4 separate regions of the Homo sapiens genome follow, and regions 1, 3 and 4 are each linked to region 2. Evidence: fine-mapped expression QTL. A gene starts in region 2. Each other region holds a variant in brackets. All regions are shown on one strand. Distances are from middle to middle. Region 1 overlaps CA5A (carbonic anhydrase 5A). Region 2 holds the start of SLC7A5 (solute carrier family 7 member 5). Region 3 holds the start of LOC102724467 (a long non-coding RNA gene). Region 4 holds the start of SLC7A5-AS1 (SLC7A5 antisense RNA 1).

Region 1 (5,724 bases), 24 kb after region 2:
CTCTTGGTGGCACAGACCCAGAATGGGCACTTGTCACATATATGCTTGTTGAGTGGCATAAGGGCCTTGCTGACAAGGGGCCACCTTCAACAAAAGCCTTCCCCGTTTGTATATAAGGGAATATTTTCACAGGCCCGGGAGACTGAAAGACCCTCTAAGAGCTCACCTGGAGCCCTCGGAAAGAGATGAGCCAGAGATGCTAAGTCGCGCTGCGACTGCTGAGAAACGTCTGCCGGGCGGGGGCGGGGCATAGGCAGCACGTCTGTGGCTCTGAACTGCCTTGGACAGACAGAATTGCTACAGATTCTTAAGATTTCCAGAAAAAAATGATAGTATAACTTTTATTTATTTTTTATTTTATTTTTTTGAGGCAGAGTGTCACTCTGTCACCCAGGTTGGAGTGCAGTGGTGCCATCTCAGCTCACTGCAACCTCCGCCTTCCAGGTTCAAGTGATTCTCCTACCTCAGCCTCCCAAGTAGCTGGGATTACAGGCAAACGCCACCATGCCTGGCTAATTTTTGTATTTTTATTTATTTATTTATTTGAGATGGAGTTTTGCTCTTGTTGTCCAGGCTGGAGTGCAGTGGCGTGATCTCAGCTCACTGCAGCCTCTGCCTCCCGGCTTCAAGTTATTCTCTTGCCCCAGCCTCCCAAGTAGCTGATATTACAGGCATGCACCACCACGCCTGGCTAATTTTGTAGATTTAGTAGAGACGGGGTTTCACCATGTTGGTCAGGCTGGTCTCGAACTCCTGGCCTCAAGTGATCTGGCTGCCTTGGCCTCTTTAAGTCCTAAAATTATGGGCATGAGCCATGACGCCCAGCCCAAGAGTATAACTTTAAAAAGTGTATACAAATATTATTAATTAATTTTCGAAAAAAAAAAAAGCAATGAAACTATTTAGATAAGAAAAAGGAGGCCGGGCTCGGTGGCTTATGCCTGGAATCCCAGCGCTTTGGGAGGCCAAGGTGGGCAGATCACCTGAGGTCAAGAGTTCAAGACCAGCCTGGCCAACATGGTGAAACTCCGTCTCTACTAAAAATACAAAAATTAGCCAGGCGTGGTGATGGGTGCCTGTAATCCCAGCTATTTGGGAGGCTGAGGCAGGAGAATCGCTTGAACCCAGGAGGTGGAGGTTGTAGTGAGCCGAGATCGCACCACTGCACTCCAGCCTGGGCGATAGAACGAGACTCTGTCTCAAAAAAAAAAAAGGAAAGAAAAGAAAAAGGAAGAAAACAAAAACCATGCAGACCCATGACCCTGGGACAACTCCCATGGATGCCTCGTGTGTCTGTGTGTGATAGATTAGGGCGTTGCTCAGGACATGCTTGCTGTGATCACTGGAACCGCTGTCCAATCTCAACAAGCTCCTACTTCAGTTGGAATTTTCTTCTTGTGTAAGAATGCCCCAAATGCATGAAAGAATATATATAACTCCACAACGCTCTCATGCAGCATCTTAGTGACGCTGCCAAGCAAGAGGGACGCCTTCCATGAAGCGCCATCGTGCCAGTTACGGGCACGGCTCACCTGGCTTGGGGCCACTTCAACGGGCTCCTTCTGGATGATCCAGGTGACCGACTCGGTCAGCGGCGGGGTGGTGAGCGAGCCCGCGTAGGTCCAGTAATCCCAGCAGGTGGGCAGCAGAGTGGAGGGGTCGAAGGGGCGCATGGCCGCCCGCGCGTCCTGAGAGACCGAGAAGCACAGGACGTGTCAGTCCTCAGGGGAGACTAGGAGCTTCCATCTTGTCTCAGCACGTGAGGCCTTCATGGTGCTTGGAAGGAAGTGCTTTCCCCCAGATAAGGCCATGAGGCCACTGCTGTCACACTTGCAAGCAGTGATGAGAAAATGTGACCCTTCTATACAGAGCAAGGATTCCTGCCAACTTACATTGGTGGGAATTACGTTACATTACACCAGCTTACGTTGGTGCTCACATTTTTCCTTTTGAAGTCATTTCTTGGGGCGCAGTAGCTCACCCCTGTAATCTCAGCACTTTGGGAGGCCGAGGCGGGTGCATCACTTGAGGTCAGGAGTTCGAGACCAGCCTGGTCAACGTGGTGAAACCCTGTCTCTACTAAAAATACAAAAATTATCCAGATGTGGTGGTGGGCGCCTGTAGTCCCAGCTACTCAGGAGGCTGAGGCAGGAGAATCGCTTGAGCCCAGGAGGCAGAGGTTGCAGTGAGCCGAGATCATGCCACTGCACTCCAGCCTGGGCAACAGAGTGAGACTCTGTCTCAAATAATAATAATAATAATAATAATAATAATAATAATAATAATAATAAATTAATTAATAATAAAAATAAAAATAAAGCCATTTCTTTTAGCATACCTTGGCTGCAAAAAATATTACTTTTTATTGTGATAAAATATACATAACATAAAATTTACCATCTTAACCTTTTTTTTTTTTTTTTCGAGATGGAGTTTTGCTCTTGTTGCCCAGGCTGGAGTGCAATGGTGTGATCTTGGCTCACCGCAACCTCTGCCTCCCAGGTTCAAGCGATTCTCCTGCCTCAGCCTCCAGCGCCTGCCACCACGCCCAGCTAATTTTTGTATTTTTAGTAGAGACAGGGTCTCACCATGTTAGCCAGGCTGGTCTTGAACTCCTGACCTCGGATGATCCACCCGCCTTGGCCTCCCAAAGTGCTGGGGTGAGCCACTGTGCCCGGCCTATGGGCTCCTTTTTAAGGAGGGAGTCATGGTGGCCAAGAAGGATGTCCACATGCCTAAGCACCCGGAGATGGCAGACAAGAATGTGCCCAACCTTCATGTCACGAAGGCCATGCAGTCTCTCAAGCCCCGAGGCTGCCTGAA[G/C]GAACAGTTTGCCTAGAGACATTTCTTTCTTTCTTCCTTTCTTTCTTTCTTTCTTTCTTTTTTTTTTCAGACAGAGTCTCCAGGCTGGAGTGCAGTGGTGCGATCTCAGCTCACTGCAGCCTCTGCTTCCTGGGTTCCAGCGATCCTCCTGCCTCAGCCTCCCTAGTAGCTGGGACTACATCTTCACGCCATCGCGACCAGCTAATTTTTTATATTTTTAGTAGAGACGGGGTTTCACCATATTAGTCAGGATGGTCTCGATCTCCTGACCTCGTGATCTGCCCACCTCGGCCTCCCAAAGTGTTGGGATTACAGGCGTGAGCCACCACGCCCGGCTTGCCTGGAGACATTTCTACTGCTACCTTACCAATGAGGGCATCCAGTATCTCCGTGATTACCTTCATCTGTCCCTGGAAACTGTGCCTGCCACCCTATGCTGCAGCCGTCCAGGGACTGGCAGGCCTCGGCCTAAAGGTCTGGAGGGTGGGCGACCTGCAAGACTCACAAGAGGGGAAGCTGACAGACATACCTACAGACGGAGTGCTGTGCCCCTGGTGCCGACAAGATAGCCGAGGCTCGGGCTGGGTCAGCAACCGAATTCCAGTTTAAAGGCAGATTTGGTCGTGGACATGGCCAGCTACCTCAGTAAAATCAGAGAGGATTATTTTGCATTGAATACACTCACAGCCAAAAAACAAAAAGAGTCAGGGTCTTACTTTGTCACCCAGGCAGGAGTGCAATGATGCCATCATAGCTCACTGCAGGCTCTAATTCCTGGGCTCAAGCGATCCCCCCGCCTCAGTTTCCCAAGTAGCTAGGACACCACACCAGGGTTTAAAATTAATTGTTTGTAGCCAGGGGGTCTTGCCATCTTGCCCAAGCTGTTCTCCAACTCCTGGGCTCAAGCGATCCTCCTGCCTTGGCTTCTCAAAATATTGGGATTACAGGCATAAGCCACTGTGCCCAGCCAGCTCTTTTGGATATATACCCAGAAGTGTGTGATTGCTGAATCATAGGGTAGTTCTATTTATAACTTTTTATTTTTTTTATTTTTTTTGAGGCAGAGTCTCACTCTGTCTTCCAGGCTGGAGTGCCGTGGCATGATCTCAGCTCACGGTGGTTGGGCCTGGCCGCAACACAGCCCTCATCAGCGTCCCATGCCAACCAAGCATAGCTCTGCACCTGCCCCTGGCCAGCACTGTGGGACAAGAGTCCAGTCCAAAGTGACAGAGTCCCTGTCTGCAAGGAAGATGGCCTCCCTGCTCAGCCACATCACATCACCTTGACTTTGCTGGGCCCTGGCCTTCCAAGGTGGAAGCTGGCAACCCAGATGCCTTGGGCTTGTCTCCTAACATCAAGCAGTGAGGGTCAGGGTCAAGAGAGGTGGCTGAGCTACCAGAAGGAAGCCCGGGAGTGTCCACACTGGCAGACACATGCATCAGTTCTATGCACGCATGTTCACGTTTATAATTATCCAGTTAATTAAAAAAAAAAAAACAGCATTATAGGCTGGGCACAGTGGCTCATGCCTGTAATCGCAGCATTTTGGGAGGCCAAGGCAGGCAGATCACCTGAAGTCAGGAGTTCAAGACCAGCCTGACCAACATGGCGAAACCCCATCTCTACTAAAAATACAAAAATTAGCCAGGCATGGTGGCAGGTGCCTGTCATCGCAGCTGCTCGGGAGACTGAGACACAGGAACTGCTTTGGCACAGGATGCAGAGGTTGCAGTGAGCCGAGATGGCACCATTGCACTCCAGCCTGGGCAACAGAGAGAGAGACTCTGTCTCAAACAACAGCAGCAGCAGCAAAACCCACAGCATTATTGTGATAGAATTCACATACCATGCAACTCTCCCATCTAAAGTGTACAGCCTGGTTGGGCGCAATGGATCATGTCTGTAATCCCAGCACTTTGGGAGGCCGATGTGGGAGGACTGCTTGAGGCCAGGAGTTTGAGACCAGCCTAAGCAACATAACGAGACCCTGACTCTACAAAAAATACAAAAACTAGCCAGGTGCAGTGGTGCACGCCTGTGGTCCCAGGTAGTTGGGAGGCTGAGGTGGGAGGATGGCTTGAGCCCCGGAGGTTGAGGCTGCAGTGAGCTGTGATCATACCACTGCACTCTAGCCTCGGTGACGGAGTGAGATCCTTTCTTAAAATAAGTAAATAGGCTGGGCACGGTGGCTCACGCCTGTAATCCCAGCACTTTGGGAGGCCGAGGCGGATGGATCACCTGAGGTCAGGAGTTCGAGACCAGCCTGACCAACATGGCGAAACCATGTCTCTACTAAAAATACAAAATTAGCCAGGCGTGGTGGCGCATGCCTGTAATCCCAGCTACTCGGGAGGCTGAGGCAGGAGAATCACTTAAACCCGGGAGGCAGAGGTTGCAGTGAGCTGAGCTCATGCCATTGCACTCCAGCCTGGGCAACAAGAGTGAAACTCCATCTCAAAAAGAAAACAAAAAACAAAAAACAAAAAAAGTAAATAAAAATTGAAGGGTACAGTTCTATGGTTTTGGGTATATTCACAGTTGTGCAGCCATCCCAAGTCAATTTTAGAACTTCCACCTCAAGGGGGAAGCTTGGTACTTTTTAGCTATGGTCCCCACCCCCGCCCTGCTGCTTCTGTCTCTGTGGGTTTCATAGGAACTGAGTCATGTAACATGTGGAACATTTGTGTCTTGTGTCTCTCACTCAGCACGGCGCTTTTGAGGCTCACCCACACCGCAGCATGAGTTAGAGCTGTGTCCTTTCTGATTGCCAAGTAATATCTCACTGCATGGTCTAGCTGGGTTGACATCCCATTGCACGCTCTAGCTGGGCTGTGAAGGAGCAGACTGCTTGTGCATGTGGGTAACAGGCGGGTGTGCAGTGAGACATCAGTCTGGTGCACG
Region 2 (5,724 bases):
CTTAGCAGCTAAAGAGGGCAGCCTCTGCGTACTGCCTGGGAACATGGCAAAACCATTTTAGGCTTTAAAAAAAAGGTGGAGAACAAGTTGTACATTATGATCTTTTAAATAAATAGGCCAGCGATATATTTGTAACAGAAGCAGCTCCGGAAGCATACACTGTCAGCCGCAGAAACTCTGGGGGTCGGGGGTGGTAAAGGAGGAGAAATGTGTCACCCAGGCAGGAGCTCAGTGGCACCATGCTTGGTTCAAGCAGTTCTCCTGCCTCAGCCTCCGAGTAGCTGGGACTACAGGTGTGCGCCATGACGCCCAGCTGATTTTTGCTTTTTTTTTGAGATGGAGTTTCGCCTTGTTGCCCAGGCTGGAGTGCAGTGGTGCGATCTCAGCTCACTGCAACCTCCACCTCCTGGGTTCTAGTGATTCTCCTGCCTCAGCCTCCCGAGTAGCTGGGATTACAGGCATCTGCCACCACACCCAGCTAATTTTTTGTATTTTTAGTAGAGATGGGGTTTCACCATGTTGGCCAGGCTGGTCTCGAACTCCTGACTTCAGGTGATCCGCCTGCCTCGGCCTCCCAAGTGCTGGGATTACAGGTGTGAGCCACAGTGCCTGGCTGGTTTGAATTTTTAAATGATGATGAATTCATGTATGACTGATGTGATTTTTATTAGAAAGAGAAAACTAGGCAGCGCCCCATCCTACGTCTCCTTCCTGGTGGCCAATGAAGCATTTCCCACGACTCACTCCTGGCACCAGCAGGAAGTCAGAGACTCAGCACCCAGGGGCTGCTTTTTTTTTTTTGAGACAGGCTTGCTCTGTCACCCAGACTGGAGTGCAGTGGCGGGATCTCAACTCACTGCAACCTCCACATCCCGGAGCATGCCTCAGACTCATAAGCAGCTGGGATTACAGGCGTGAGCCACTCTGCCCGGCTAATTTTTGTATTTTTAGTAGAGATGGGGTTTCACCATGTTGGTCAGGCTGGTCTCGAACTCCTGACCTCGGTAGATCCGCCCGTCTCGGCCTCCCAAAGTGCTGGGATTATAGGCGTGGGCCATCACACCCAGCCAACCAGGGGTTCATTTTTTAAAGATAAGAGTGCAGGCTGCGTAAGCTACTATCCATGTCGTTACATACCGGGCCGACATGTACCTAGGCGGGAGGGAGACTGAACCAGTGAAATTCTAATGACAAAAAAAGAAATCAGAGTCATCCCCTACATTCACATCTCCAACGCCCAGCTGGAAGGCACAGGCTCTCCCCACTGCTGTCCTGCTACGATTTTTCCCGGCTTTGACCTGCATGGTGGTGCGGCTGCTCGACTCAGAGCCTCAGAGAAACCACACAGAGCCCTGCTGAGTCTTGCCCTCGGGGCATTCTCACATTTATGAAGAAATGCCTCCCCCTCCCCCTCCCCCCCAAAGTACGGTGTGGCAGAAAACAGCGCCAACAGGTCCTGCCAGTCAGAAGCCACTCCCCTGATTTCATGGCTCAAGACCCCAACTATAAATTAGCCCTTCCCACCTTGAATGTGTACACACACTATTGAGATGCAGGCCGATCCATGCCATGGGATGAATCTGAGAATTGCCAAGACCCACCTTCCCACGCCACCCAACCAAATCATGTGGCATCTGCTACAAGTGATTTTCCCCCTGAAATCCCACAAGAAAACTATTTTGAGGCCGGGCACGGTGGCTCACGCCTGTAATCCCAGCACTTTGGGAGGCCGAGGCGGGCGGATCACAAGGTCAGGAGATCGAGACCATCCTGGCTAACACGGTGAAACGCCGTCTCTACTAAAAATACAAAAAAAATTACCCGGGCGTAGTGGCGGGCACCTGTAGTCCCAGCTACTCGGGAGGCTGAGCCAGGAGAATGGCATGAACCTGGGAGGCGGGCTTGCGGTGAGCCGAGATCGTGCCACTGTACTCCAGCCTGGGCGACTGAGCGGGACTCAGTGTCAAAAAAAAAAAAAAAAAAGAAAGAAAAAGAAAAAGAAAACTATTTTGAAAAGCAGTTATCTCTGGCCTGGTGAAGAACACACCAGCACCATGCCCACCAAAACAGGAGCCCCATGGCTGTTTCCCAGAGAAACCTGGGACCCGCACGTCCATTCACTGCAACACAGACTGAATCTGCAGCCAAGCTCCGCTCTCTCACTACTGGGAACCCTCAGGGGGGATCCCTTAGCCTAAATCAGCACCAGTCACTACCCGCACACGATGTTATTACTACTGTTTTCTTATGAGTCAGCCCGTGTCACTGATTCCTGACGAGCTGGTGTGGAGAGCAGAAATGAATGATTTTTTTTTTAACTGCAATTTCCTTCTCACCAACCAGTCAGCAATCGGAGCTCTAACAGTAAACCGATTGCTCAGTTACTCCACGTGGGTGCCACGCAAGAGGCTGGGAGTATTGCTCAGCGGGGCCAACGGGAGGGTGGCACTTGCCTAAACCGCTTAAGTGGGGGAATGGAATGCCCACCGAAGGGCAGGGCAGGGACCCTGCTGTCCCGTCACTGAAGATATTCCCAGCCTGTGGGGAGAAGTGTAAAAGAATGAATGAAAGAAACGCACGTGGTTTCTGGGACCAATGACCTTAGCCTAGAACTGCCGGGATGGTCCAGGAACGTAAAGATGTAGAGATGTGGGAGCCAGGGGCGTAGTGATGCAAGGATGCAGGGACCCAGAGACTACGACCTCCCAACCCCCGGCCCGCGCCCCGTACTCACGCACGCAGAGGCAGGCCACGAGCTTGGCTGCCTCCTCGGGCACCGGGCAGGTGGGGAAGAGCGGCTTGAGCAGGTAGGTGGCGAAGACCAGGGCCACGATGTACTGCGATGAAGGCCGGATGATGAGCAGCTCGATCCAGAGCTTGAGGAAGGCGGGCAGCGAGCCGTAGACCTCCAGCATGTAGGCGTAGTCGCCGCCCGATTTGGAGATGGTGGTGCCGAGCTCCGCGTAGCAGAGCGCGCCCACGATGGAGAAGACGCCGCACGCGGCCCACACCACCAGCGCCAGCCCCGGCGAGCCTGCCTCCTTGAGCACGCCCGTGGGCGTCACGAAGATGCCCGAGCCGATAATGGTCCCCACGATGATGGCCACGCCGTTGAGCAGCGTGATGTTCCGCTGCAGGGTCACGCCCTCGCCCTCGCCTGCCGGCGCCGAGCCGTCCGCGCTCTTGGCGGCCAGCATCTTCTCCCGCGCCTCTTCCTTCTCCTCGGCCGCCGGCGCCGCTAGCGCGCGCCGCTTCGGGCCCGCACCCGCCATGCTCTGCGCACCGGCCGGGCCTGGGACACCCGGGAGCCGCGGCCCAGCGAGCAGTGTGCGCGCCGCCCGCCGCCCGCAGCTGCGTCAGGAACCCCGCCCGCGCCGCCTTTTAGGCCCCGGCCCGCCGGCCCCGCCCACCGTCCGCGGCTCCTCCCCGCCCCGTGGCCCGGCCCCGTCCCTCAGCCCCGCCCCCTCGGCCCAGCTCGGAGCACGTGCGTCGTCCGGCCCAGCCTGGCGGGCTATTCCCAGGCCCGCGTGGTCCTCGAAGGCCCCAGTCCTCCTGCGCCATGGAGACCCCGGCCTCGCGACCTCCCCCCTCCCGGCGCCCGCGTCATCCCAGCCCGTCCTCCCGGATGCGCCTGGGCGGGGCCTGGCAGTCAGGGCGCGCCCCTTCACCCACTGGCCCGCAGCCTCTCGTCAAGCCTGGGAGCGGGCAGTGCACCAGGGCTGGCCTGAGGCCAAGGATGGAGTTTGGGGTACCCCCCGAAGGGAACCTAGGCTCCTGTCCCGGATGGGCCGAGGGGATGGAACCGCCCCCACAACCAGCTCCTGGGGCACGGGGGAGGGATGAGAGGATGACCTGAGGGGAAGCTCCTGCAGCCTCCTTCCAGCCTGGGGGCTGCATCAGTGGGGCTGGTGAGCCGCGAACTGGGACGAGGGAAGAACCGAACCGAGGCCACCCAGTAATTCCCATTGTATCCCAAAAGAATCTTGCCAAAGACGGCGATCCGGTGCCCGTAGCTTTGAGAAGCAGTAATAACACAGGCTTTGGGAAGCCAGCAATCTGCCTGAGCTCAATTTAATCAACAGAACCGGGGGTTCGCTGGGAGCCATAAGACCCCCACCCCCAAATCTACCTGGGGAATTCAAAGGCAGGCTTCAGTGTGAAGGGGCTTTAAAGCTTGTTATTCCTAGGGAATGCGAGAGGCATCTTAGCTAAAAAGGGTTGAGAGGTAATTTCAGTTAGAGGCGAGAGCAGGATGCCAAGGCTCCTAGGCCTGGAAATGGGAAGGAATATAAATACTGCCCCGAGATTGACCAGACTGGTGAGCGGCCAAAGACCTGTTCAAAGGGTGTGTGTGGGTCAGGGAGGAAGCTCCTCAGTATCACCCCACCCCGGGGTTCCTTGGCGTGTGTGCAAACGAGTCCTTGGAAGCTCACAGCAGGCATGTGGGGAGGCCTTTGTTCTGGGTGAGCGTTCAGCCTCCCAGGGCAAACACGCAAACACCGGTTGCAGAGCTGGGTGTTCACAGCAAGACAGTCTGCTGGGCAGATGCCTCTGGAATCCACAGAATTCTGAACAATAGCCGTGGTGGAGGGGGGTCAGAATCCCTGTCGTGCTGGGACCTCTAGCTGCAGCCAGGAATGTCCAGGCCCCACCCCAGGGAGGGGGCGGCTGAGGAATGCCAGGGCTTGTCATTCTGGACCTTGCTCGCCCCCCGGTATGTCGGGCATTCCTCTGCGGTGATAAAACCGAGCGAAATCTCAGCAGCCCAGGCAGCCACAGGCGGGGGAGTGCGGAGGTCACACAGATACTAACTTGTAATCTGCCGTCCACATTGCTGGCTGTGGAAGGTGCAGAGACCCCTCCATCTGCCCTATTCTTCCCGCTGTGCCTGCAGAGGGAAGGAGACAGTACCACCATGGCTGGGCAAACTCACCGAGTGCTCACTGAGTCCTCCCCTAGACAGCTTCTTATGCAATAGGGTAGGTGCCAGTTAGAGCCATTTTGCAAATAAGGAAGCTGAGGCTTGGTAGGGTTACCTCGCTTGTCCGGCCAGCAAGTAGCCTGGGAGCTGTCCTTTTGACTCTGAACTTATATGGTACTTTTAATCATTCCACCATTCTTCTTTGAGTAACAAGAAAGGCAACCAACAGTCATACCCCAAAGCATAAAATTACAACCATGATAAGCCAAGGACATGACAGGGTGAGCCAGCGACAGCGACAGGGACCAGGCAGGTCCAGATAGACTTTTCTGAGGTGGTACCTGGAGCTGAGAGCCCAGGGTGAGTGAGAATTAATAAGGGAGGTGCAGGGGTCCCCACCGGCACAGAGGGGGCCCTGCACAGTTGGTGCAAGTCATGGTTGGTGCCCCCAGAGCCAGGCTCCTGGCAAGTGCTGGAGCCCTTAAGCAGGAAGGGTGACAACAGCCATGAGCGTGTTCAAGTCACACAGCTATTACGCCACCTCTGTCGGTTTTTACTGGGTTTTCATATGACAACATTCTAGATTTATCCAGCAAATCTACTCCTCTCAGACGTCCCTGATGCCGGCCCTGAAACGCCTTCGCCTGAAAGCTATGACTCTAGAATCTTAGCAAAGAGTGCCATCTGTTGGAAAGATTCGGCAGCGTTTTGATTTTTACAGAGGCAGGACAATGGTCTTTTCAGCTCCAGTCAGTAATTTATCACATGTTGTGTATTTTCAGAGGTTAAAAAAAAGAAAGAAA
Region 3 (5,591 bases), 87 kb before region 2:
GGCTCCTACCTGGCCGCCAGCTCCAGAAGCCAAGCCAGGGGCTCTTCGAGACATGGTCCCACCAGAGGAGAGACCGAGCCTCGGAGAAATGAACGTCCTAGGCCATGGGACTCGGACCCCTCACCCCACCCGCCACACCTGCCAACTTCCCGGCCTGCAGGGTGGCAGGAAGCCTGAGGCATTATTCAGCTTCCTTAGGGCCCGTTGGCTGATGCAACACAGCTCAGAAGTTGAGTCCAAGCACCAAGCCCGCAATGTCTGCGTCGGCCGCCAGGGGTCACTCCTCCCGCGCAGAAGGCGGCCTTGGAGCCTCGCAACCGCAGTATGCGAAGGTTGCATCACCCTCGCGGGGTCTAAGAGGAAGGATGGGGACCAGCCCGCAGGCGGGCCTGAGCCTCCTGGCAAAGCCCTTTGTCAACGTCAACAGAAGCATCTGGCGTCCTTTCTGGTCGCGGACGTCAGAGCTGGCTGCTCCGGCACTCAGCCGGGTGGTTGGTCCCCAGGCAGCCGCTGGGGCCCTGCCACCAGGTCTCACCTGGCCGAGAGGGAGTCAGGATGCCCTCTGAAGCAATGTCCCGAAATCCCAAATTCACCCCTACCCCCAGGTCAATAATGTACAAGAAGCTACATTCCTTTTTTTTTTTTTTTTTTTGAGAGGGAGTCTCACTCTTGTTGCCCAGGCTGGAATGCAATGCCACGACCTCGGCTCACCGCAACCTCTGCTTCCCAAGTTCAAGCAATTCTCCTGCCTCAGCCTCCCAAGTAGCTGGGATTACAGGCATGCGCCACCACACCCTGCTAATTTTGTATTTTTAGTACAGACAGGGTTTCTTTTTTCTTTTTTTTTTTTTTTTTGGAGACGCAGTTTCACTCTTGTTGCCCAGGCTGGAGTGCAATGGCATGATCTTGGCTCACCACAACCTCTGCCTCCTGGGTTCGAGTGATTCTCCTGCCTCAGCCTCCCGAGTAGCTGGGACTACAGGCATGCACCACCATATCTGGCTGATTTTTTTGTATTTTTAGTAGAGATGGGGTTTCTCCACGTTGGTCAGGCTAGCCTCAAACTCCCGACCTCAGGTGATCCACCCGCCTCGGCCTCCCAAAGTGTTGGGATTACAGGCGTGAGCCACCGTGCCCGGCCTGAGACAGGGTTTCTCCATGTTGGCCAGGCTGGTCTCAAACTCCAGACCTCAGGTGATCCGCCTGCCTTGGCCTCCCAAAGCATTGGGATTACAGGCATGAACCACCACGCCTGGCCGTTGAAGCTACATTCTTGTTCCAAAGTTTTAAGCAGGGACTTTGGTGCAGACATAGCAATCTTTTGGGAGGATTAATGGAGGGAAGAAATAGTACCTGGTATTCCCACTGCTCTCACCCACAGCCCCGGGATCCACCTCCTCTTTACCGCCCGGGCCACAGAGAGCACACGTGGGCTCCTTTCCATTTGCTGGTCCGACCCAGCAGTGGTCACCGCTGGAGCCCTGAGACCCCACCAAGGTGTTCTGCCCAGCTCTCCTCATCCACAGAGGACAGAGGGGGTCAGGGGAAATAATATGAATCTGACGCTGGGGACATTTGCAACCCGCAGAGTCACCGCCACCTGGTGTCTCTTCAGTGTCTATGGAGACCAGTAAATGACTGTTTGCTCCACTGTTCTGAAAACAAATGAGTGCAGAAACAATCTTCTTTTGCTTCCTGCCTGGTGAGAGACATGATTGCCAAGAGCTCAGGCCAGGAGCCGAGGGTTTGCTTTTCATCCTAATCTTCAAGGTGGTCATCTTCAAAGGATGTGAGAGGGCAAGAGCTGAGCTCTGCTTCCTGCAAAGAGAACCACACATGTCCCTCAGTGGAGCACCCAGTCTAGCTTTCCTGTGTCTGCCTTCCTCCCTCCACCCACGCCTTCCTCCCTCTGCCCACAAGTCCTTCACCCTCTCCCCACAGGCTCAGCCTTCGGGAGCTATTTCCTGTGGCTTTTTATTCACTTCCTTTTTTTTTTTTTTTTTTTTTGAGA[T/C]GGAGTCTCACTCTGTCGCCCAGGCTGGAGTGCAGTGGCACGATCTTGGCTCACTGCAACTTCTGTCTCTCAGATTCAAGCGATTCTCCTGCCTCATCCTCCTGAGTAGCTGGGATTACAGGCCTGAACTACCATGCCTGGCTAATTTTTATATTTTTAGTAGAGACGGGGTTTCACCATGTTGGTCAGGCTAGTCTTGAACTCCTGACCTCAAGTGATCCACCCGCCTCAGCCCCCCAAACTGCTGAGATTACAGGTGTGAGCCACCGCGCCCAGCCTCATTTACTTGTTTTGATAATTTTTTTCTTTTGGGATAATCGTAGCTTTGCAGGACAGCTAAGATAGTTCCTGAAGTTCTCCAGTGATCATCTTCCATACAATGGTACATTGGTCAAAACTAAGCAACCAACATTGGTATATTGCCATTAACTAAACCCCAGACTTGCTTTGGATTTCCCTGGGTCTTTTCCTACTTACATCCTTTTCCTGTTCCCATCCAGGATCCTACGCAGGAGACAACATTGCATTTAGATGTGGTTCACTCTTCAATGCAGAGATTTTAGACCCTAACCCATCTCACCCTGTGTAGCTCCAGGTGTGTGGCCTCCTGCTGCTGGGAGGAAACGCACCGAGTCGTGGTGCTCAGTGGCACCCTAAATGCCCTGGGAGCCTGTGAACCCCAAAAATCTGAGACAGGTCTCAATCAATGAAGAAAGCTTATTTTGCCAGGTCAAAGACAGGCACTGTGACACAGCTGAGTCAGGAGAATAGATCCTGGAAGAAGGGAACCGAGAGACTGCCTAGGACTAAATCAAATGTAAGGGCTTGGTACAGTGGCTCACGCCTGTAATCCCAGAACTCTGGGAGGCCAGGCGGGCAGATCACCTGAGGTCAGGAGTTCAAGACCAGCCTGGACAACATGGTGAAACCCCGTCACTACTAAAAATACAAAAATTAGCTGGGTGTAGTGGTGGGTGCCTGTAATGCCAGCAACTCAGGAGGCTGAGGCAGGAGAATCACTTGAACCTGGGAGGCGGAGGTTGCAGTGAGCTGAGAACGTGCCACTGCACACCAGCCTGGATGACAGGGAGAGACTCCATCTCAAAAATAAATAAATAAATAAAATAGAAACACTTCAGCTATGACAGGAAATATCCTCTTTACTTACATAGGGCATCTGTGTAAATGAAGCGTAAATGATTTCATTGACAAATGAGTAAGTGACTTTGTAACTTTACTTCATCCTCTTCATTTACACAGGGCGTACACCAAGTAAATGACTTTGTAACTTCACTTTAGCCTCTTCATTCACAAAGGGCATACACCAAGCAACCAATGGAAACCTCTAGAGGGTATTTAAATCCCAGAAAATTCTGTAACCAGTTTCTTGAGCCCCTATGCTGGGGCCCACTCCTACCTTGTGGAATGTACTTTCTCGTTTTCTTTTTTTTTTTTTTTTTTGAGGTGGAGTCTCGCTCTGTCGCCCAGGCTGGAGTGCAATGGCGTGATCTCAGCTCACTGCAAGCTCCGCCTCCCAGGTTCACGCCATTCTCCTGCCTCAGCCTCCCGAGTAGCTGGGACTATAGGTGCCCGCCACAACGCCTGGCTAATTTTTTGTATTTTTTAGTAGAGACGAGGTTTTACCGTGTTGGCCAGGATGGTCTTGATCTCCTGACCTTGTGATCCGCCCACCTCGGCCTCCCAAAATCCTGGGATCACAGGTGTGAGCCACCGCGCCCGGCCTTGTACTTTCGTTTTCAATAACTCTCTGCTTTTGCTGCCTCACTCTTTTTGCTTTGTTTGTGCATTTTGTGCAATTATTTGTTGGACAACACCAAGATGCCAAGAACCTGGACACCGTCCACCGGTAACACAGCCTCAGGGGGTCCTGAGGACATGTACCCAAGGTGGCTGGGGCACGGTTTGGTTTTACACGTTTTAGGGAGACATGGAGACATCAATCAATATATGTAAGATGTACATTGGTTCCGTACAAAGAGGCAGGACAACTCAAGCAGGGAGGGGGGCTTCCAGGTGGCAGGTCGGGGAGAGACAAACCGTTGCATTCTTTTGAAATTTCTGATTAGCCTTTCCAAAGGACGCCATCAGATATGTATGTATCTCAGTGAGCAGAGGTGTGACTGAATAGAATGGGAGGCAGTTTTGCCTTAAGCAGCTCCCAGATTGACTTTTCCCTTTAGCTTAGTGATTTGAGGGCCACAAGATTTCCAAGATTTATTTTCCTTTCACAAGCTGAAGAAGTGGGAGCTGCCTTTGGTGCTCTCCCCATGGACCTGACTCTGGCCTTCCCCTCCCTTTACCCCCATGGGTCCCTTGTCTCTGCAGTTGATTTGCTCACGAGATTCTAAATATCAGCCGTTTACTACTTAGGATAAACCGCAGGTCTTGCTGCAGTATCGCCCGTTGCTGATATGTGCAGATGCCAAGTTCTCTGGATGGGAACCATCTAGAGCCTTGGTAGTCAAAGGCCGGGCGCAGTGGCTCACCCCTGTAATCCCAGCACTTTGGGAAGTCAAGGCAGGCGGATTACTTGAGGTCAGGAGTTTGAGACCAGCCTGGACAACATGGTGAAACCCTGTCTCTCCCAGAAATACAAAAATTTGCTGGGCATGGTGGTGCGTGCCTGTAATCCCAGCTACTCGGGAGGCTGAGGCCGGAGAATCACTTGAACCCAGGAAGGGAGGTTGCAGTGAGCCGAGATTACGCTACTGCACTCCAGCCTGGGCAACAGAGCGAGACTCCGTCACAGAAAAAAAAAGAGTCTTGGTAGTCATGGGGATTGAAGCCTCTTTGGGAGTCCCATCCCTTCGCTCCTTCTGTGCCTGTGACCCCTCACTGTGAAGTGCACACTCCCAGAGTGCCCAGGCCAGGCTGGTTCAGTGCCACCCACCCTCCAGCCTCTCCCAACCCCCCACAGCCAAAGCACCGGCACAGAGGTCACAGGAGACTCAGGCCACGTGGCATCCAGATGCCGACAAAGTGAGTTCTTTACCCAGAAAATGAAAGGGAGACCTTCCCGAGGCGCTTGCCCATCCAACTGTGCAAGGATGACGGGGTTCCACTCAAGCCAACCGAAAACATCCACAGATAAGAATACACAAAATAAAGCCAACCCACAACAAACTCCCAGGACTCAGAATCCAACACGCCTCCCATCGTCGTGTTGTGACCAAGCGAGTTACAGAGAAACGCCACACTTTGAGACAAATTAAAGAGTCTTTTATTAGCCAGCGACCAAGAGGCAGCTAATGCTCAAAATTCTCTCAGCCCTGAGGAAGGGACTAGTTTTGTTTTTATACCGTGGTCTAAACAGCGGAGGCAGGATTTTAGCTGAAGCAATTTTTACAGAAGCAGAACTGGCAAAAAGTTAAAAATTTAATTGGTTACATGGCCGGGCGCGGTGGCTTAAGCCTGTAATCCCAGCACTTTGGGAGGCCGAGGCGGGTGGATCATGAGGTCAGGAGATTGAGACCATCCTGGCTAACGTGATGAAACCCCGTCTCTACTAAAAATACAAAAAATTAGCCGGGCGTGGTGGCGGGCGCCTGTAGTCCCAGCT
Region 4 (5,724 bases), 31 kb before region 2:
AGATGCGATCTGCACTCCATCTGCCTCACACACCGGGCTGTCCCGCCCTCGACTCTGCATACAGTGCTGGGCATGTTGCCAGGGGCTCAGGCGGCTTATGATGAGGGATGGAAGGAGACAGCTTCGTCTCCCGAGGCCTCCCACGGGCAGGGAAGGTCACGGCTCCATTCCCACATCACAGGCCTGGAAACCCTGAGCCGCCAGGACGCACAGGGGCCTGATGCTTCCAGGAGACAGTGGCCACCCACTAATAAGCCAGGAGACCACCCTCTTGGAGACGCCGCTGTGGACAGCGCTGAGCAAAAGCCCATCCCTGAAGCTGCAGCCTAAACTGTCACCTTCAGCAGATGAGCTCCACCCGGCACAGAAGCCAGGCAGGGCTGCAAGGAGCCTGCAGGCCGCAACCTGCGGCTCGGCATGGCTGGGGGATTGACTCAGCTGTCCTGAATCCATACTTGGACAGGGCACCCTGGGAGATGCAGGGCTGACCACAGGTCCCAGCCCATCAGTGTGGGCTGCATGACTGCCCTGTCCCCAGGGAACAGACGCCAACCCGTGCCCAGGCTCACAACAGTGGGTAGAGCCTACCCCATGCCCAGGTCCCCATGGGGGCTGAGCCCCCGCTGTGCGCAGTGACTGCCCTGTGCCCTAGGCACTGCCCCAGGCTGGCACAGCAGGCACAAGCTGGTGCCCATGTAGGGCGGCTCCTCCCTGCCCTCTGCAGCCTTCTCTTGGGGCAGCATCTGGGTTCTTGTGCTGACTGTATTTTAAAGCCCCTGTTTTTTTTGTTTGTTTGAGACGGAGTCTCACTCTGTCGTCCAGGCTGGAGTACAGTGGCGCGACCTCGGCCTCCCAGGTTCATGCCATTCTCCTGCCTCCACCTCCCGAGTAGCTGCAACTATAGGCGCCCGCCACCACGCCCAGCTAATTTTTTTGTATTTTTAGTAGAGACGGGGTTTCACCGTGTTAGCCAGGATGGTCTCTATCTCCTGACTTTGTGATCTGCCCGCCTCGGCCTCCCAAAGTGCTGGGATTACAGGCGTGAGCCACCGCGCCCAGCCTAAAGCCCGTTCAACAGCATTCACAGGCACCCCCGGGGCCCCCAGGCTTCGGGAACACAGAGGGAGAGATGGTCCGGGCAGGGAAGCAGGGGCTACTGTGACAGCCATAGGCCAGCTGAGTGACAAAAGCTGCTGGCTAGCAGCCACCAGGGGCTCTGGCCTCTTGTTCTGTGTCAGGGCCAGGGCGGCGGGACTTGCTGGGCCCCAGGCAAGAGCATGGCCTCTGCTGGACGGCCCCGTTTTTGGAGAAGGCAGCCCACGGATAACAGCTACCCCTCTGAATGAGCCGCTGGGGACGGGGAGAGTCCAGGAGAGTCCAGCTGGGCCCAGGCGCTCCTCGGGCCGGGTTCCCTGCATTCCTCCTGCCAGCACAGCCCCGACGGCCCTTTGAATGCTGCGCCAGGCCCGGCTCTGCCCCGCCCCTGCCGGGGCTCACCACCGCCCACCTATGACTGCAGTGTCCTTATCTGCTTCCCTCCACCCAACGGAGCACAAGCTCTGTGCCATCTGCTGTCCTTTGAGGAACCCCGGCTCCTGCAGTCACACTTGGCACCCTCGTAGCTGGTGGTCAAGTCATCACCGGAATTAGTCGACCCAGGTGCATGCAGGCAGGGGCAGGTCCAGAGGCTGAGCTGGGATGCTGGCTCCCAACTCAGGGTCCTTAGGACCCACGGACCCTGCCTCTGTGAAGGGTGCCTGGGTGAGCGGGAGGCCCCGGGCTCACCTTGATGGGCCGCTCAAGCTCAGGCTTTCTGTGGCGCAGCCAGATCATGCCGATGATGGCCAGGGCCACGCAGAGCCAGTTGAAGAAGCTGAAGAAGTTGATGACGGAGAAGATGTCCTTGGAGAAGGCGTAGAGCAGCGTCATCACACACTGGAAGAGAGAGGCGGCTGGCTGAGCCCTGGGGCCCACGAGCAGGGCTGTGGACGGCCGTGGTGGCCACCGGGGACTGTCCAGCCTGGCTGGGCCCAGCTGAGCACCAGGGAATTTTGTTTTAAAGGAGAAACCTCATCTGAGCAACATGCAAGGTCTTGAAGGAGGAAAGGAGGGAAGGAGGGAGGAGAGGAGGAGGGAAGAGGCGGGGAGGAGGGAAGGAGGGAGGAGAGGAGGGAAGGAGGGAGGAGAGGAGGAAATGGAGACCACATTTGGGTTAAGGACAGGTGAAGAACACAGTGTACATACACAGCTGGGCTCTGCTGGACTGTGGCTCTGTGTGCGAGGGCCACAACCTGACCTAACCCAGTGGTCACCAAGAAAACAGTTTCTGTAACCCCCGGCACAGCCGTGCTCCCGAGGACCGTGCAGCTGCCAAAGAGTCCAGGACTTGCTGCCCTTCCTGACTGGCTTCTAACTCAGGGAAGGAGTAGTAAGCAAGGGCCAGGACCTCTGAGGCCAGCCCACAGCTGCCAGACCCCAGCTTCCTCTGCTGTATCTCACTGGCTTTGGGGGAAGCAGCCTGTTGGGGGAGCCCAGTGTGCTCAGGGGTGGGGCCTGCAGCCCACAGCCCTGGAGGAAGCCACTGTGGAGTGGCCTCTCCAGCCCTGGTCACACCCTACGATGAGAACACAGCTTCAGGCACCAGCTCCCTGAATTCCTGACTTACGGAAACTGTGAGATAATAAGTGCTTTTCCTTTTAGAACACTACATTTTGGAGTGATGTGTGACACAGCCAGAGGGAACAAAGGCAGTCACGCGGGCTGGCACGGAAAGATGCAGGAGAAGCGGAAGGAAACTGTGTGTGATGCACCCCGCTGAGAAACGAACAGAGTGGGCGCCCACGGAGGTGCAGTGAGCCAGGCGGCTGGCAGAGCAGCACCCC[G/A]GGTCAGCTTCTGCCTCCCGCATTTCCGATGGTCTGAATCGTTTGTGGCAGCCACCATATATTATTTTTGGAATAAAATCTAAAGCCCCTCCAGCGCTCTCTGGCATTCAGCGGAGCTCGGCAGGAGGCCACATTTGAGCTGTCACCCAGTCCACACCCCAGACAGAGCTGCAAGCTGTGGCAGCCTCCCTCTGGGAGCCCCCGGACAACCCCCAGGGATGTAGGGCACAGGGCCGTGCAGCAGGCTTACCGTGAACACGAGGGACGGCACGGGGGTGAGGAGCTGTGGGTGGATCATGGAGAGGATGGAGGGCAGGTGGCCTTCCCGGGACCCCACGAAGAAGAGCCTGTGGACAGACAAGAGTGGCAGAGTCAGCCACCGCCCCACAACTCAGCACGTGGACAGGGGACACGCAGGCTGGGGAGTGGCAGGGCCTGTGCCTGGCTTGTCTGGGCCTCTCTGGCCACAGTGGGAACCAGGCCCCTCCAGCCGCTGGCTGTGGGCCTCTCAGTTCCCCCAACCAACTCGGCAAGGACAGCAACTTGGGAGCCACTGCTCACTCCAGCCCGGGGGGTCAAGCGGCGGCCACAGGGCATCTAGGACACCACAGCTGTGTCACCTCCAGGCAGGAGTGGGGAGGCGAGGGCCAAAGTTCATGCTTCCTTTATTTCTGTATTATTTGGGCTTGCTGCTGCCTTTTTTTTTTTTTTTTTTTTGAGATGGTCTCACTTTGTCACCCAGGCTGGAGTGCAGTGGCACCATCTCGGCTCACTGCAGTCTCAATCTTCTGGTCTCAAGCAATCCTTCGACCTCAGCCCCCCAAGTAGCTGGGACTACGGGCACGTGCCACCACGCCTGGCTAATTTTTGTATATTTTTGTAGAAACGGGGTTTTGCCATATTGCTCAGGCTGGTCTCGAACTCCTGAGCTCAAGCGATCTGCTCACCTCGGCCTCCTAAAGTGCTGGGATTACAGGTATGAGCCACCATGCCTGGCCTATTTGAGCAATTATGCATCCCCAGTATCACAGAGACAAACCTTTTACAGACATGGAACATGTTGAACCTGGCCATGAGGCCTGGGCCTCCCTCACCTGTGGTGGGTCGGGCTGTGCTCACCTGGAGGATGTGAACAGGGACCCATTGACGGAGCCGAAGCAGGACAGGCCCACGAAGACGGGGATGATCCAGGACATGACGCCCAGGTGATAGTTCCCGAAGTCCTAGGCAGGCACAACCAGTGAGCTGGGCCCCACCGGGCCGGCCCTCGCCCTCCCTGTGCTCACTGGGAGCCCTCTGCACCGGGCCAGCCCTCGCCCTCTGTGCTCACAAGAGCCCTCTGCAGAGGACCTCTCAGGCTGGATTCTGGCCTCTGGGGGGACTTCCCAGGACAGGGCTTTCCAGTGACCCCTGCCCAGCCTGCTTGTTGGGGAGCCCTTGCTGGTCCTGATTTGCCCCCTCCTCTGGGACTCCCTGGAGCAAGCTACGGCCTGCAGGTGGGGATCTTGCCTTCCCCCGTGGGGTCCTCCACAGGCTCAGCACGGTGCCCTGCCGGCAGCGGGCTGGGAGTCAGAGCTTGTTCAGTAGGAAGCTGGCCAGAGCACCCACTCCCTGTTCCCCCAGCCCTGGGAGGGCAGTGGGAGAAGCCTCGGGAACTGCGAGGCCAGCCTGGCTGAGCTGCCCGGTGACACCGCCCGGGCCTGGCCTCCCGCCTGCCAAGCCAGCAGCAGCCGTGCCTTCTAACGAACCCCACTCTGTGGCAGACTCCAATCTTTCTGTACTCAGATTTAAAATGACCTCTGCCCTGGACTCCCCAGGCATTCTGGCTTATAGCTGGTTCTGGGTGTGGCTTGGTATCAGATTTTAAACCCTTCTCCCCTTTGACTCCCCCAGCAGCTGAGCTTGAGGATGATCCCCAGACACTTCCTCTGCGGTCGCTGTGAGGGGAGACCACCACTCCACCCCTCCGGGTAGGGGAGGCTTAGAGACGCGGGGCCCCCTCTGCGTAGGGGAGGCTTAGAGATGTGGGGCACCACTCCGGTCTGGAAGGGACGGGCTGGCCACAGCCTCTCAGGCCCCTGGTGGAAGCTGGCGGGTAGCGGCTCACCACGGCCACGGCCTCGGACGACAGCATCTGCTCGGTGGACAGGGTGGTGAAGTAGGCCAGGTTGGTCAGCACGTACACCAGCGTCACGATGGGCAGGGAGATGATGATGGCCAGGGGCAGGTTTCTGGAAAGAACAGGGACGACATGTCACCCAACGCAGCCCGGGCTGAAGGCCAAACCCTGTGCCCAGGAGCCAGGTGGGCTCCTCGCAAGCAGTAGCTCCAGCCTCTGTGCTGGGCTTCTCGGGGAAGGTGGGAAGCAGCAAGAGAACACAGGCTGGCGGCAGGAGGCTGTGCCTGGAGCGGGACACTGCACAGCCCTGGCTGGTGCCTTGGCCGCGGCCTCAGCTTCCCCACCTGAGAAATGGGGATTCTTCGGGGTGACCTCAAGGGCTCAGGAGAGTTAAGTCAGGCCACCTGGTCTGAATTCTAAGGCTCTGCCCACGAGCTGCACAGCCGGGGACCAGAGCCGAGAGCCCAGGCAGCTCCTCTGTACCGTCCCGCCCTGAGTGGGGCCCTCACTTGCCACCCGTTCTCTGGAGAAACCGTGCTCAAGGACACACGGCCAGAAGCCACCCGCCCCACATCCTGCTGGCCCCAGAGGCCCCAATCACGGCCCGACTGTGAACTGGCCTGAGCCGACCAACAGGCTTCGAGTGGAATGTGGCTGCTTCCTGCCTCACATTAAAATAATGAAAAAAGACGGCTCCATCCATTCTTGCACGTACCTGTAGGG

What was found. PIP is the estimated chance that this variant, and not a neighbour inherited with it, causes the effect.
Region 1: its variant is fine-mapped to the expression of SLC7A5 in whole blood (TOPMed, PIP above 0.99).
Region 3: its variant is fine-mapped to the expression of SLC7A5 in whole blood (TOPMed, PIP above 0.99).
Region 4: its variant is fine-mapped to the expression of SLC7A5 in whole blood (TOPMed, PIP above 0.99).

What each region holds. Positions count from the first base shown.
Region 1 is chr16:87,890,267-87,895,990 of GRCh38, forward strand. CA5A (carbonic anhydrase 5A) reads right to left here. Exons shown (of 7, transcript NM_001739.2): 6 at 1,533-1,688. Among named protein-coding and RNA genes, the nearest start is that of SLC7A5, 24 kb to the left of the region's middle. The variant G/C (reference allele first, on the strand shown) is at 2,824.
Region 2 is chr16:87,866,151-87,871,874 of GRCh38, forward strand. It overlaps SLC7A5 (solute carrier family 7 member 5), which reads right to left and starts at 3,357. Exons shown (of 10, transcript NM_003486.7): 1 at 2,735-3,357. The coding sequence starts at 3,272. RefSeq lists enhancers at 256-305, 3,911-4,670, 4,115-5,314, 4,671-5,432, a silencer at 3,321-3,670 and a cis regulatory region at 5,394-5,720.
Region 3 is chr16:87,778,978-87,784,568 of GRCh38, forward strand. It overlaps LOC102724467 (a long non-coding RNA gene), which reads right to left and starts at 171. Exons shown (of 4, transcript NR_120309.1): 1 at 1-171. RefSeq lists enhancers at 1-755, 106-205, 536-625, 756-1,621, 1,647-1,706 and 1 more. The variant T/C (reference allele first, on the strand shown) is at 2,012.
Region 4 is chr16:87,834,713-87,840,436 of GRCh38, forward strand. SLC7A5 (solute carrier family 7 member 5) reads right to left here. Exons shown (of 10, transcript NM_003486.7): 4 at 5,717-5,724; 5 at 4,990-5,113; 6 at 4,002-4,105; 7 at 3,133-3,229; 8 at 1,786-1,935. SLC7A5-AS1 (SLC7A5 antisense RNA 1) reads left to right here and starts at 1,553. Exons shown (of 2, transcript XR_007065175.1): 1 at 1,553-2,090; 2 at 2,701-2,975. RefSeq lists a silencer at 1-185 and an enhancer at 1,965-3,164. The variant G/A (reference allele first, on the strand shown) is at 2,883.